Linked DNA regions of Homo sapiens. The protein of the gene in region 2 interacts with the protein of the main gene of each other region in a pairwise test. Each region holds a gene or a part of one and is shown on either strand. Other genes may lie near its edges.

Region 1 (7,024 bases), on a different chromosome or scaffold from region 2:
TTCTTCTTTTTGAGATGGTCTTACTGTGTCACTCAGGCTGGAATGCAGTGGCGCAATTTTGGCTCACTGCAGCCCCAACCTCCGTAGCTCAAGTGATCCTCCCACCTCAGCCTCCCAAGTAGCTAGTGACAGAGCAGGAGCATCACCATCTTGGACAAGCACCACCATTTTAAAGTGCCCCTTGATCAAAAACTGCCTAAATCCAACCCAAAGGGCATCAGCCTAATGGCTAATGTCAGTATGACCATAAACCACAAATGACATCTCCAACCAGAAACATTCCAACCGTAAGATAAACTCTCTCCCTGACCAGAGACAAGCCAGCCCCAAGATAACCTCCCCTCCAACCAGAGACATTCCAAACCCACAATGAACTTCTCCTCCACACAGAAACATTCCAAGCCTGTGATAGGCTCTCTCACCCTGAACCCTTAAATACACTTAGTCTGTAAGAGAGAGTACTCCTGACAGAAATCAGCCAGAAGCCCCTCTCAGGTTTATTCTCCAAAATAAACCTGTCTTTATTGAGCCATTTTTCATGTTTCTTTCCTCTTTCTTTTTAACTCTTACAGCTAGGACTATAGGCACAAACCACCATACCTGGCTAATCTTTGTATTTTTGGTAGAGATAGGGTTTCACCATGGTGCCCAAGCTGGTCTTGAACTCCTGGGCTCAAGTGATCCACCCGCCTTGGCCTCCCAAAATGCTGGGACTGCAGGTGTGAGCCACCACGCCCAGCCCACATTCTTAATAGAGCATTGTTTCAAGCTGTAATATTTAAGAATACAGAGAAAATGAAGTATAGTCAATACTCATTATTCTTGGTAGTTATGTTTTATAATAACGCTGAGAACACTGTATTAGTAAATACTGAACCATTGCTCCTAGGGGAACTACAGAGTTAGAGTCCTATGAGTCTCTGGTCACATTTTCATCAACCAATCAATACAGAGCCTTATTTTATGATGTTTCTGCTTAAAGACACCTTATTTAATATTGATTCATTAAATTATTGTTTATTGATTGATGATTCAATAACATTGAACTCACAGCCAACTGACTATAACTTGTGTGTGAACAAAGCTTATCTGACACACGTATTTCCTCCATGAGGCACACCACAGCCTCCTAGAATGCTAGACAGCATTTCAGCACTATGCTTGGAGGTCACCAATAAAAAGCACAGAAATGAGAAAAACATGGCACTAAAGACGTCATGAAAAGGACATTCTTTACAGTATCAAAGCTGAAACAAGAAGGCTGAGTGTTGCCTTGTTTGACCTGAGCTGGGAACAGGCATGTGGGGTGACTCAGATTTTTCACAGCTCTGTGTATGCCCACAAATGACTGCAAAAACACCTCAAGTACTAATTTTGAGGAGACAAACCTTAGCGAGTAGGTGAATTTGCAAATATGGCATCTGCAAATAACAAGGATTGGCTGTGTAAGGTTTATAGCACTGACGTCCTCCATGTTGGAAAAGCCATGCCTATGGCATAAAGTTGGAACACTTTTGTGACTGATCTGAATTAACTAAAAGAGGGATGACATGATTCAAAAACAGGATATGCCTGTAGTCCCAGCTACTCAGAGTCTGAGGCAGGAGGATCACTTAAACCCAGGAGTTCAAGTCCAGTGTGGACAACATAGTGAGACTCCTATCTCTGTTTAAAAAAAAGAGAGAAAAAAATAGGGAGGGTTACCATACAGGGAAAATCAGCTGACTCTATTTCACTGTCTTTTGGGTCACAGCCAGAGAAAATATATTACATTTGCACCTGGAAACATTCTAGTTAGAAATAAGGATGAGTGTTCAGACTGTGAAAGTTACAAGCTGTAGGTTACTCAAGGAGATGGAGCCATCCTTTTCTCTTTAAAACCTTTATATCAGGAAAGAAAGCCATCCATCTGGAAAGGCTGAAAGTAGTTCCCATTTTTGGTCCTATATCTCTGGGGTATTTTAAAAATAGCAGCTTTTATACTATATTTCTGGTGTTCTGGAGTATATAATACACTTCTGAAAGTTCTGATGGTGATTGTTTAAACTTGAAGATTGAATGAAAATGGAAAAGTACGTGTCAGCTCCTCTTCAGCAGAATGCCACCCAGTGTTAGCTGAGGCACCAGGCTTCCTTGTGAATTGTCTTGAACACCACTCCATAGCCTCTGAGAGGGCAGAGCCTCCTCACTCCCACCACAGTTCAGCCGGTTCCTAGCAGCTCCTTTCTGTGTGCTTCTCTCTCCCCACACTCCTGTGCTTTCCACACTCTGAGTGTTGGCTCACCCCTGCTTGTGTAAACCAAAATAGGAACCTCCACCCTCTACCAAGTCACTTGCCTCAGAAGTTTCACAAGCACTCGGAAAGAATTCTGTGAGGGAGGCCGGGTGCAGAGCCTCATGCCTATAATCCCAGCACTTTGGGAGGCTGAGGCGGTGGATCACTGGGGTCAGGAGTTTGAGACCAGCCTAGTCAATATGGTGAAACCCCATCTCTACTAAAAATACAAAAATTAGCCAGGCATGGTGGCGCATGCCTGTAGTCCCAGCAACTAGAGAGGCCAAGGTGGGAGGATTGGTTGAACCTGGGAGGTGGAGGTTGCAGTGAGCTGAGCTGGAGACACTGCACTCCAGCCTGGGCAACAGAGCGAGACCCTGTCTCAAAAAAAAAAAGAAAAAAAAAAAGAAAAAAAAGAATTCTGTGAGGGTCGGGTCGTGGAGAGGAAGAACACCAGGTTAGGGGTCGTCACAAGCCCTGTTGCTTCCTCCACTCCATTTTCCTTTCAGTTCTAGCTCTCCTCCCTCTTGTAAGTAAACGGGCAGGTGTTTTTCTTTCTTTTCTTCCTCGAAAACAATCATACTTAATTCTCCTTCCCCCACCCCAGAGATTATTGTAATTCTGTAATTATAATAATCTTTCTGATTTTTTCTTACAGGTTTTCCTCGAGAAGAGAGAAGATGTTTCTGCCATGTTAAGGGTTCAGAAAGTGAGCACATTTGGCGAAATAAATTTAAAGACTTGACAATAATTCCACAGTAGTAAGAAGATCTACCCTGAAGAATGTCATACTTTTTTTTCTCCTGGTGTAACAGCCCTGGCACAAGGAAGAAGTTGGTTCTGCCTGGATGATGAGGACCTTGGGAAGGGGCAAGAGACCAGGTCATACAGAAAGCAGCAAAAACCAGCCGGTGTGGCTGGGTCCATGTCGATAGACAGCACGGAAGAAAGAAAGAGCCTGGGAAAAGGAATAGGTTGGGGATGGCAGGGTTGTGAGTTAGATGGGAAGGGACTCTTTGTCTTATTTTTCCATTCTGAATGCTTTTCTCCCTCACGTTTTACATTTCACAATTTCCCTCACATTTCTGAATTTCTCTCACATCTCTGAAACTGTGATGCAACTTACATTAGAAAGCTTCCTTCTACTGCACTCAGCTGGGTGATGGTCATGACCTTCCATGGACACCCTCTGATAAGATCAAGAAAGTACTAGTATTGAGAATCTTCTAGACTTGGGAAAATAAGGTTCATGATGAATTATAGCTTGGGAAACTTATCTAAACTCTATTCTTAAAATAAGCCTAATTCAAGAGATTTCTGTGTACCAGAATACAAGGAATAAAGTCATCTATTCAGAGGACTAAGAGGCTGCTGCCGTCTGTCTGGGAAAGAGGTGTCCACAGGTCCAGGTGTTGGTGGAGGGCACTAGCTGGCCCCAGGAGTGAAGAAGAGCAGGGCTAAGGGTGAGGTTGGACTACTGGGCAAAGCACAGATGGATATGGGTATGATAGTAATACCTGGCAGGAAGAAAGGCAAACACCAGAGAAATGTGGCTGAAGTAGAGACCCAGCTCTGAGCTGGGAACGGGTGGGGCCCTGTAATGACAGAGAGGTGGGGACAGGAGTTGAGGGAAAGAGGTGAGGGGAAAAGGTGAGGGGAAAAGACCCATAGCTGGAGCTCCAGCCACCATCAGCAAGTGAGAAGGCACTGGATCTGGAGTTAAGTGGGAAGGTGGCAAGCTCCCCCAACTCCCAACAGCAAATAGAGGAGAGAGCTAAGCAGAAGGTTGCGATGAGAAACTGCAAGGCCCAGCTATCAGCCCAAGGAGCTTGGAGGACAGTGGAGGAAGGGAGAACGGATTTCCTAGGGAAGGAGCTGGAGGTTAAGCTGGAGGTGGCTGTATATCAATGATGCAGTTTTGACTCCGATTCAGGGCTGTGAACTGGAGGCCCAACCAGAAATAACCTCTCCTAGCAGAGCCAAGAAACACTGAGACCATGCTGATGGAGGGAAGTTTAACCTGAAGTCTGGGTTAATCCAGCTGCTAAATACGGTGGGCCCTTCCTTCTCCAAGCTCTAGGTTAGGGTGGGTCTGGAATAACATGGAATTTACAGAAAGGTGACTCCACCTAGCACCAGAGACAGGAGGAGCCCAGGAACCTCATTGTTGTCAGGGTCCACTGCTGGAAGCCCTGGCCAGCTGAGCTGATGGTGCAGGGCAGGGCCCTGTGGAGCAATTCTGGGATCCCATGTTACCAAGGGTGAGGAGAGGACCAGATACCTTTTCATCACAAGGTCCTGCAACTGGCCCTTCACTTCTCATCCCTCCAAAAGAAGCAGGGATCTAGGTTGCCCCTGCTTTGGGAATTGCAGGAGATGAGAGAGAAGAAGCTTAAGAACTCTCCACCTGGCATGACTGAGGCACATGCAGATGGGAAAAACGAAGCCCTTGCTCAGCAAGTTGGTCTCAGTGAGCCTTTAAAGCCAATCACTGGGCAAGGTGCCAAGTTTCCCAGCCAAGTGTGATCCCTCTTTTGTAGTCTCCTTCCTGGCTCTATGATACACTCAGATTTTCACAACCAAATGTACATTTTATATTTGATGTAGATAACTAGAATTGCCCTAAAGGACAAGCAGTCCCCTGCCCATGAGGGGAGCATTCACACACACATCCTCATGCTGAGATGGATGGATGCATTTAGACCAGGCATGAAGTACTCAAACACATTGCTGTAGCTAATATCTTGACTGGTCATAGGCACAAATTAAGCTGGAAAAATGTTTATGATGTTGCCACTTTTAAGAGACTGCATAGCTGCTTGTAGGCAGTAATAAGAGTAGTCTATGTTTACTGAGCACTCAACCATGTGCTGGTCTTAAGCCTTTAGCCTGCATTAACTCATTTAATCCTCAATTAATTAAGAGATGGGTTCTTCAATTATGGTTTTTCTCCATTTTTCACATGGAGAACCTGTGGCAAAATGAGGGTAAGTATGTGACCAAGATTACCTAAGTGTTAGGTAGCAGGCCCAGACTTGAACTTAGGTTATCTGACCTCAGAGCCTGGGCTCTTAGCCACTGTGCCATTCCATCTCCAACTTATAGAGGCTGATGCTTTCAGGGGCAACCCCTGGGGTGTCACTCAATGCCTGTTGTGTCTTGAGGAGGCCCAATAAATGACACCTTACTTCCATGCATGAGTTTTGAGCCAATAAAGGAATACTACAAAAGTGCAGGGCAGGTGGGAGTCCAAAATCCCACATTTATTGTTTAATAAAAATGGATATTGACATCTAAATCTCAGAATTAGATAGATTTGGGGCTCTAGAGCCAGATTGTGTGGGTTTAAATCCCAGCTCCAACCCTCACTAACTGGGAGATCTGGCGCGAGTTATTTAATCCCTCTGAGACTCAGTTCCCTCCTTTGTAAAGTGGGACAATAATGGTACTTCCTCACAGGATTGTTGTGAAGATTAAATGAATTAACATATGGAAAGCATTTAGTTACTGGCATGTGGTGAGTTCTCACTCAAGATTAGCGATTATCTTTACTGTTAACCACACATTACCAGGTGGCCCAGGGACTCCTGCATGACTCCCCATGGGGACTTGCCTCCAGAAAACTTACTGCAAGGAGGGCAGAGAGCAGAAGCCATGCTTCTTGCAGGCAGCTTGCTTCCCAGAGAAAGACAGAAGCCAAGAACTGGGCTTTACAGGTCAAGTTCTCTTTACAAACCCACCATGGGAAGGAGACAGGCCAGGAGTGTGGTGCAATTGAACCTTCCACCCCATGGAATGAAACACGACCTGCCCTCCCATCCCCAACCTATCCCTAGTATATTGGGCACCAGCATCCCAGAAGCCCTGTTCTAGAACCCATTCTATTCTGCCCTGGGATCTGTCATCAAGAAAACTTGCCTTAACAGTTGAGAAGTGTTGAATAATTTGTTTGCTTTCTGATCCTAGAAATAGATCATATAAGGAAAGTCTAGAGGAACCAGATTGTTTGCCCTGGAAACTCAATGCATGATGTTCCCGAGTAGAGGAAGAAAGTCTGTGAGGTAGCACTGGTGAGTAAGAGAAGAGATTACAGGTGAGCTGGGAACAGTCGGCCAGAGCCTGTTTTCTTTTAAGAGGGAAAGGCTGAAAGTGCAGCATGCTATTTTAACTAGAATTATAGTTGGCCAGGAATAATTCTCCCTTTATCATTATTATCATTATCACTGTAATTATAATAAATAATACTTGATGGTCGAAAAAAAATTCAGATTGGTTTCCAAAGGTTCTGTGCCTTAGACAGTAAAAGCAGGAAGGCCTTTACTCACCTGTGTGGTGCTTCTCCTGATAGGACACAGTCTTTTCAGACTGCATAGGGCTGGCAAAGGTCACTACATCTGAAGAAGTTTATGGAGAACTGATGTCTCCAAGAAGTGCTTTACAGTCAGAAAGTTCTGGAGTCATTTCAGTTTTTCAGTTCCAAGTCAACTTGTGTGGCTGTAGATAAGTCATTTGCCCTTTCTGGGCCTTAATCACCTATAAAGCAAGGACACTGGAGCACCTCTCCAAGAATCATTCCAACTCTGACCATCTCTAATTTTATATTTCTCATTTATGCTAGTGAACCCAATGGGCAGTGTTCCTGTGATCTTAACCCCAGGGGAACATGTGGGCATTTTATCCAAGAGTGGCCTTTGTTATCTGGTCCTTTAGTGACTCAAACAGTGGAAAATCCAGGATCTTTGTTGTTGG
Region 2 (8,016 bases):
CAGACATCAGGAGTTCCATTTTGTGAACAAGGTGAGATTCACATAATCATGGGCCTGGTGACCACCACTTAAATGCTTATAGCTAAATTAAATCTAATAACTATCAGTGGTATTAACATAAAAGTGGGTATTTCTTGGGACCAAATGACTGTTTAAATATCCAGAGTTTGGTAATGGAGCAAGGCAGTAATACTCACAGGCTTTCATGGGACTATGCTTTCTTTATTTTCATTTCTAGTAATTTAAAATAATAGCTTTCTTGCCCAATTTAAGGCAAAATTCTAAAATGCACTGTCGGCATTTCTCTATTTTCTTCCAAATCCTCTATAGTTGATTACAGGTCTTGGAAACTCTGTATTTATCTGATTTCTTTAATCAGCAGACATACAATTTATTACTTAGATTATAGCTCTCACACATTTTCCATACTGAGAAATGTGTTGCTACAGATTTCTCTATGAAGAATTCAAATGGCGCTGCTAAAAACGCTTACATGAACCAAACAGCTCACTTTTGCTTATCCATAGGAATCCTGCTCCAAAAACATATATTTGAGGTGTTAAAATTGTTAAAAATTATTTTTGAGACACTGGTAAACTAGATTTCATGATAAAGGGAATATTTCATATTGTATAACTCTCAAATTGGACGGGAATACATTTTTTTCAAACAAAATATGTAAACTGAGGCAGTTGCCAGAAGACTTCTTGGTAGCCTTCTAAAACTGTATTTTTCTTCCCTAAAGACTTTTAAAGCTTTGGAGGCTGTTTTAAGTAGTACTGGAATTGTTGGATGTAACGATGTTTTGATGAAAATATAGAATAAAATAATAATAAAAAATAAATAGTACTGGCATTGCATGGAATTTCAGCTGATGTCTTATAACTTGTGCACATAACGAAACATACAGCCAAAGAAAGCTGTCTAATTAACAAACCAATTGTTAAAAGATGCAAAGGGTCTTAAAAACCACTTAAACATTGTTCTTAAAGACACACCCAAAATGACTGCTTTGTGTTCTGTGTTATTAACCATCCCTAAAACTTTCTCAAGGCTAAGGCTGACTGGGAAGATAAAATGCTTATCAAACACAATGGGAAAATTCTGAGTCATGATAAGATTTCAACTCAAGGTCAAAGGCAGAGAATCACCTTTCCTAACCCCATCTGCTAGGTACAATTCACCTATGGTCTTCTTTGTCCTGTCGATGTGCCTAACTATCAGGCAGATGTTTATAAAGAATTTCTCCTCATATGCAAGCGTTTTTTGTTTTTTTTCATCAGTATAAGGACAGAGAATAAACCTTAGCTAAGAAGCAACTGTATTAAAAACAAAACGATTTGTAGCTATGATTCAAATCAGCTCTCTTTCTGTGGTATTAAGAGAATTAAAGGGTAGAAGCAGAAAACCTCTCATAAATTAGCAAGAGTCCTGGAAAAAAGTCGCAAGTCAAGAGACCACAAAGATCTCAGAGGTACTGACAGTGGAAATCTCAAATGGATCATAATAGTTACCACAAATAATTTATAAAAAGCAATGGCCAATAGATTCCAATATTACCATTCTATTGTAATCTATAGGGATGCCATATTAATCATATTTAACCTTTCCAGGCATTATGCTTTCTTAGGAGTCCATATTCAATAAATAAATGCTGAAAAGTTATTTTCTCATCTAACCTAATAATCCATATTGTTAAAAAAATGTTTTATCAAACATTTCCTAGATGTCATAACTTGCTTAAAATTGTATCCTCATATAATGGTGAGGATACCATTACCAAATACCCTGGTGTTTCTACTGTATTCATCATGTACAATCCTATAATTATAGTCATGTTGTCTTAACTTAGTGTTATAAATCACTACAATTTCTATAACATTTTCATATATGAACAAAATTAATAGCTTTCTCATTATTGAATAGAATCAGATGTGATAAGTGACCTCAAATGTTTTATTTAGAGGCTTAAAGACAAAGAACTCTAAACGAGTATCCAGCATCTTTTGAAAGGATACCTAAAGGGGCAAGAAAAAAAATTATCTTTCCCCCATGAGCAAGAGAAGGGGAGCTGGGTGGTAAGTAAGGATGCAAGGTTTTCAGGACTGTTAACAGTTGAGAGTGTAGGTTCTTTCTACCTCTCCCTGATCCTCCCAGCCCTCCCCCATAACAATGAGGATGCTGGTGAAATACTAGCGGACAGGATCTGACCATACCTTCATGGGTAGGCTCTGGGTCAGGTGTAAGTGAGATGTCATCCAGCTCTCGCAGGCAGAGCCATTCTCCATCCATGGACACTCGGAATTTGCAAAGGTAGATGGTCTCCATGGCAGCCTGTGTGATCTTGTCAGTGGTGGGGGTTGGCATATCGGTCGGAGGCGTCAGAGCAGACATGATGACTCAGCTGGGACCACAACACACACACAGACACACACACACTCACACACACACACCAAAAAAATAAATACAACCTCCTCACCAAAAAAACCCAATACAAAGCTCTGAAACAAAGCTTTCAGGAAAAGGGTGGGGGAGGTTTAAAAAAAAAAAAAAGGAAAAATACCTTATAGGTTAAGAACAAACTGCTCAAGATAAACAATTCTACACTATCTTATAGACAGTTCCTACCACATAGCAAAATAAGATGATGCTTGTCTTCTCCCAGCTTCCTCTCCTTTTATCTTCCCTTCCCTGCCCCCCACCTTTTTTTTCAGCTGAGCTATAGGCTTTAAATCCCGCACAGCTGATGCTGCCTTAGCTGGCTTTAAAAATCTGGCCTCGATATGAGTAAGTGAAAAATCCTCCTCCTTTGTGCAGAAAAAAAATATAAAAGAAAAACCTGAACAAAAAATAAACCTATATTTTCAATGTAGCTTAAAAAAAAAATCCTGAGCTGCAGAAATCACTTCCAGGATCTGCTCAGATGAGCTGGGATGCTGAGTTCTCATAGGATTGGCCGTGCGCAGTAAGCAGGGTGTTGACCAAAATGGCTGACTAATGAACTGAACTGAAAATTCAGGCTCATGTGACCAGCTGCTCTGAACGTAGGGCAAGCAATTCCCAGGATGCTTTATAGATGCTGCTGATGCTGGGAGAGCAATTAGGCTTCTCTCTCTCATCCTGTACAACCCACTTCCAGACTGTGCTAGTCAAACTGTGATCAGACATAACACAATGCACATATCCTCATCAATTCTTCTTACTTTGGGATCAAGGACTGAATAAAAGGATGACAATTAATACCGGATAATAATCTATAGTAAAGATGGTAAAAGAGGCAGTTAGATTAATTTAACAAGCATATAATTCACCTCTTTCATTCTTATCTACATAGCTATTAAAATTCTTTACTATGCTAAATGTTATGTTTTAAGAAAAGCTAAAGCATAAAAAATTGAGGTTCTCAGAGGGAAAAAAAACAAAAAGATAAAAAGAAAAGCTAAAGTAGATTTTCAATTTAAATATCTTATTCTTGGGCATTTATAATTTCCTTCTCCAAGGTACAAAAACCTGACCTTTTAGGTTAGGCAGAAATGCAAAAAAAAAACTTCAAGTTAAAAAAGTAAAATCTTTCCCAATTAATGGCAATTTCCCCCCTTTTTGATTTTGTTGTATTTATCAAGTTTCTGTATTAAGCATAAAATACGTTTCTTTTTTTTTCTTTTTTCTTTTTTGAGACAGAGTCTTGCTCTGTAGCCCAGGCTGGAGTGCAGTGGCGTGATCTCAGCTCCCAGGTCCAAGCAATTCTCTGCCTCAGCCTCCCGAGTAGCTGGGATTACAGGCACCCACCACCACGCCCAGCTAATTTTTGTATTTTTAGTAGAGACGGGGTTTCACCATCTTGGCCAGGCTGGTCTTGAACTTCTGACCTCATGATCCTCCCACCTCAGCCTCCCAAAGTGCTGGGATTACAGGCGTGAGCCACCATGCCCAGCCTTAAGCATGAAATATGTTTCTAAGCAGATTAAACCATGTTATATTTTTAAAATCCTCCCATTCGATAAGATACTGAAGACAATTATATTTTCTTAATACACACACACACACACACACACACACACACACACACACACACACACGGCCCTATATTATCCAATGAGGCATTTATACCTTGGTAGCAAAAGGGCAGGTACTTGCTTTATGAACTACATAAATTACAAAGAGAAGAATAAGAATTTTCTTTGAAAATGTTTTGGACAATTGAAAGAAAGTGTTTGTTTGTTTTTGTATTGAAGGGTTCCAATTTTAAGGAGGAACATACAAATTCAAGAAATATGACCTGAGACTATTCCTTTCTAGGGATTGTTATCAGAGGGACATCTTGATTTACCTAATTTCTGAAAACTAAAAAAATTCTCCTTGAATATTGTTAAAATCTCAAATGCTTCATCATAATTTGAGACTGAACTGAAAGAAAAAAATGCTAATAATCAAATTCTGTAGAGAAACTGGCATTTTCATATTGTTACGAAGACAGGGCGGATGGCTGGGCGCGGTGGCTCATGCCTATAATACCAGCACTTTGGGAGGCCAAGGCGGGCAAATCACCTGAGGTCAGGAGTTCGAGACCAGCCTGGCCAACATGGTGAAACCTCATCTCTACTAAAAATACAAAAATTAGTCAGATGTGGTGGCATGTGCCTGTAATCCCAGCACTTTGGGAGGCTGAGGCAGGTGAATGGCTTGAGCTCAGGAGTTTGAAACCAGCCTGGGCAACATGGCAAAACTCCATCTCTACAAAAACAAAAATTAGCAAGGTATGGTTGCGCGCACATGTGGTCCTAGCTACTTGGGAGACTGAGGTGGAAGAATCACGTGAGGCCAGGAGGCAGAGGCTGCAGTGAGCCGAGATCATACCACTGCACTCTACCCTGTCTCAAAATAAAAAAAAGAAGGAGGGTATACTGGTACAATGTAAGAAGGCATATATATAGGCTTATTTATAATTGGGGAAAATCAGTAAGTTACTAAGGAAAGCAAAATACTCCTGGTTTTATTTCTATCTCATTCTCTCTCATCATTACCCTACATCTAGACTCAGAGCCATTCATTCATTCATTCATTCAACAGATATTCACTAAGAGGTGCTCCACATGCCAGGTAGTGATCCAGGCACTAGGCACGCAGCAGTAAGACAGAAACACCTTTTCCAGGAAACAGAATTTTCATATCCAAATACTGAACACAAGCCTTCATTTAACACATTCTCATTTAATTCAGTTCAATTCCTTTCTAGCCAAAAATATTCCCATATTATATATTAATAAGGGGACAGTTTATAGATTCACTTTATATCATGCAATACTTCAAAACATAGTAAGTAGTCATTAAAACCTTCAAATTACATGGGACATTCCTGGAACCACAACTCCAAACAGCCCTAGCTATCTGTATGTGTGATATCAAAACTCTAGATCACTGATATGTTCTTAAAACAGAACAAGGAATACATGAATAAATCCGAATGCCATGTGATTGTCTGGGGTCCAAAACCTGAATTTGGCCTTGTCACAAACCACAACAATCTCTTCACCCCAGTAAGCATTTACTAACTTGAACAGATCTAGATTGATTGCAACATACCAACACAACAGGAACATCAAGGTTAGTGAGCAAGAAACTTGATTAACATTCCTTCGGAAGATCCATCCCACCCTGCCTCTCTCCAGGTAGAGGACACAGAGAGGCAAGCCCAAAACAACTAAAGTTTTTGGCAAGGAAAGAAAAACATGCCTGTATTGGTATCCTTGAATTTCCCAGATCTACCAGTTTGAGGTGTTGGCAGCCATTTCAGAAATAAGACCCGGGGGTGGGCAAGAAAAACTGTACTTCTACGCTGTTCTTTAGGTAAACACCATTGAGTCTTCAGCACGAACAGTTATCCATTGTTCACAGGCAAAGAAGTTACTATGAAAACAGTGCTATTTGTAGAAACTTATAAAAACAATTCTACGGCCGGGCACGGTGGCTCATGCCTGTCATCCCAGTACTGTGGGAGGCTGAGGCAGGCGGGTCACCTGAAGTCGGGAGTTCAAGACCAGCCTGACCAACATGGAGAAACGCCATCTTTACTAAAAATACAAAATTAGCTGGGCGTGGTGGCACATGCCTGTAATCTGCTACTCTGGAGGCTGAGGCAGGAGAATCGCTTGAACCTGGGAGGCGGGGGTTGCAGTGAGGTGAGATTGCACCACTGCACTCCAGCCTGTGAAACTCCGTCTCAAAGAAAAAAAAAAAAGATTTTAGATATTGCTTAGTACCGTTTTTACATTTTGGTCTTTACTAAGTAAACATCTTAGCTTTGAATATGAAGTTAAAGTTAAGCCATCAGTAAGATATTCAAACCTTGATTTTTTTTCTCACATACAGAGTAATTACTGTATGAGCTGTATTGAACTATTTTCTCATTTGATCCCATTTGTGAGTAATGGCACCTATTTGTAAGATGGTTGTGAGGCGGGTGGGAGTTCAGTCTGTGGCCCTAAAAGAATAGGCCTGTGTGAAGTTCAAATCCAAAATGAAGATCCAAAAAATACTACGTTCTAGCTGCTTAAACAGTCTGTATTTTCCACATTATGATGGATTCAAAGCAAATAAGAGTCACACTTCAAAGTCAGAAGTTACATTCCTCTTAAAGGATATTTGTACTCGGCTGCTACTATAAGACAAAGGTTAACTTGACAGGCTCAATGTCTCTGTTATATATTGTGGAAAAATTACCTAAAATAGCTATCATTTATTAAATTTCTATTTTCTGTTAGGTGCTTTACAAATGCCATGTAAAGGGCTGGGTGCGGTGGCTCACGCCTGTAATCCCAGCACTTTGGGAGGCCGAGGCAGGTAGATCACGAGGTCAGGAGATTGAGACCATCCTGGCTAACACGGTGAAACCCCGTCTCTACTAAAAATACAAAAAAATTAGCTGGGCATGGTGGTGGGTGCCTGTAATCCCAGCTACTCAGGAGGCTGAGGCAGGAGAATGGCGTGAACCCGGGAGGCGGAGGTTGCAGTAAGCCAAGATCGCGCCACTGCACTCCAGCCTGGGCAACAGTGTAAGACTCTGTCTCAAAAAAAAAAAAAAAAAAAAAAAAAAATACCATGTCAAGTCTTCACAAAAGCACTGCAAAACAGAGATTGATACCTTCTCTTTATACACAATGAAACCAAAGTTCAGCCACGTAACTGGCCCAGAATCACACAATTAGCGAGTAGCAGATCTGTTACTCCAAGCTACTTCTGTCTAGATACCTCCAAAGTCCATGTTCCTTCTACACTCTGCAACTTCAGCACTCTATCCTAACTCTTCCTCATCCCCGGATGTTAAATTTTATTCAGAGAAAATAAAAAGACATTTAAAACACACACACACAAACACACACACACACACGCAAAGTCTCTTCATGAAATTTCCTAAAGATGAGTTTCAACAAATTTAAGATTTGAAGAAATTTTTTTTATCAGCCTCCATACTTTACACCTTAATGCTGCACAACCCATACCTTCCTCTAGGCCCCCCAACTTACATATTAAGTTCAGGCTTTTAGTAAGTGGGCACATTCTGACAAACTGAGAACCCAGTATGGACTTTTCTGTCATGGGCTCACAAAGGGTAGATAAAATGCTTCCACTATGTACTTGGTTCACCCTACTACCACTCTGTCTCTGAGTTCCCTCCACATTTACATACTAGTTGGACACATTAAGAACACCTGATAAATTCCAAAATAGAAAAAGATAAATGAAGGGGGGAATCACTTTCTAAAATGATGCATTGTACGCTTTTTAAAAATAGCAAACTTAATGTATAATTTTAAGTCCTTAAAGAATATAACCAATATCCCTGAAACCCTTGCTCAACTGGAGAAATGGACCAACATATGTACTTATGTGCTCCTTCTTGCTTCTAAACTCCTGCCTCTCATTTCAAGGTAACCTTCTGAATTTCGTGTAAATCATTATCTTATTTCAAAAATATTGTCACAAATATATGAAGGTCTAAGCAATATGTTTAGTTTC

What was found. Proteins that work in one complex are often made in the same cells at the same time.
Region 1: the proteins of RUFY3 (region 2) and CAPN3 interact in binary tests that used the Homo sapiens proteins (3 or more experiments, as listed by UniProt).

What each region holds. Positions count from the first base shown.
Region 1 is NC_000015.10:42,362,487-42,369,510, reverse strand, and holds part of CAPN3 (calpain-3), read right to left. Parts: intron 1-7,024. UniProt on the Homo sapiens protein: Calcium-regulated non-lysosomal thiol-protease. Proteolytically cleaves CTBP1 at 'His-409'. Mediates, with UTP25, the proteasome-independent degradation of p53/TP53.
Region 2 is NC_000004.12:70,716,952-70,724,967, reverse strand, and holds the start of RUFY3 (protein RUFY3), read right to left. Parts: upstream 3,005-8,016; 5' UTR 2,395-3,004; coding exon 2,217-2,394; intron 1-2,216. UniProt on the Homo sapiens protein: ARL8 effector that promotes the coupling of endolysosomes to dynein-dynactin for retrograde transport along microtubules. Acts by binding both GTP-bound ARL8 and dynein-dynactin.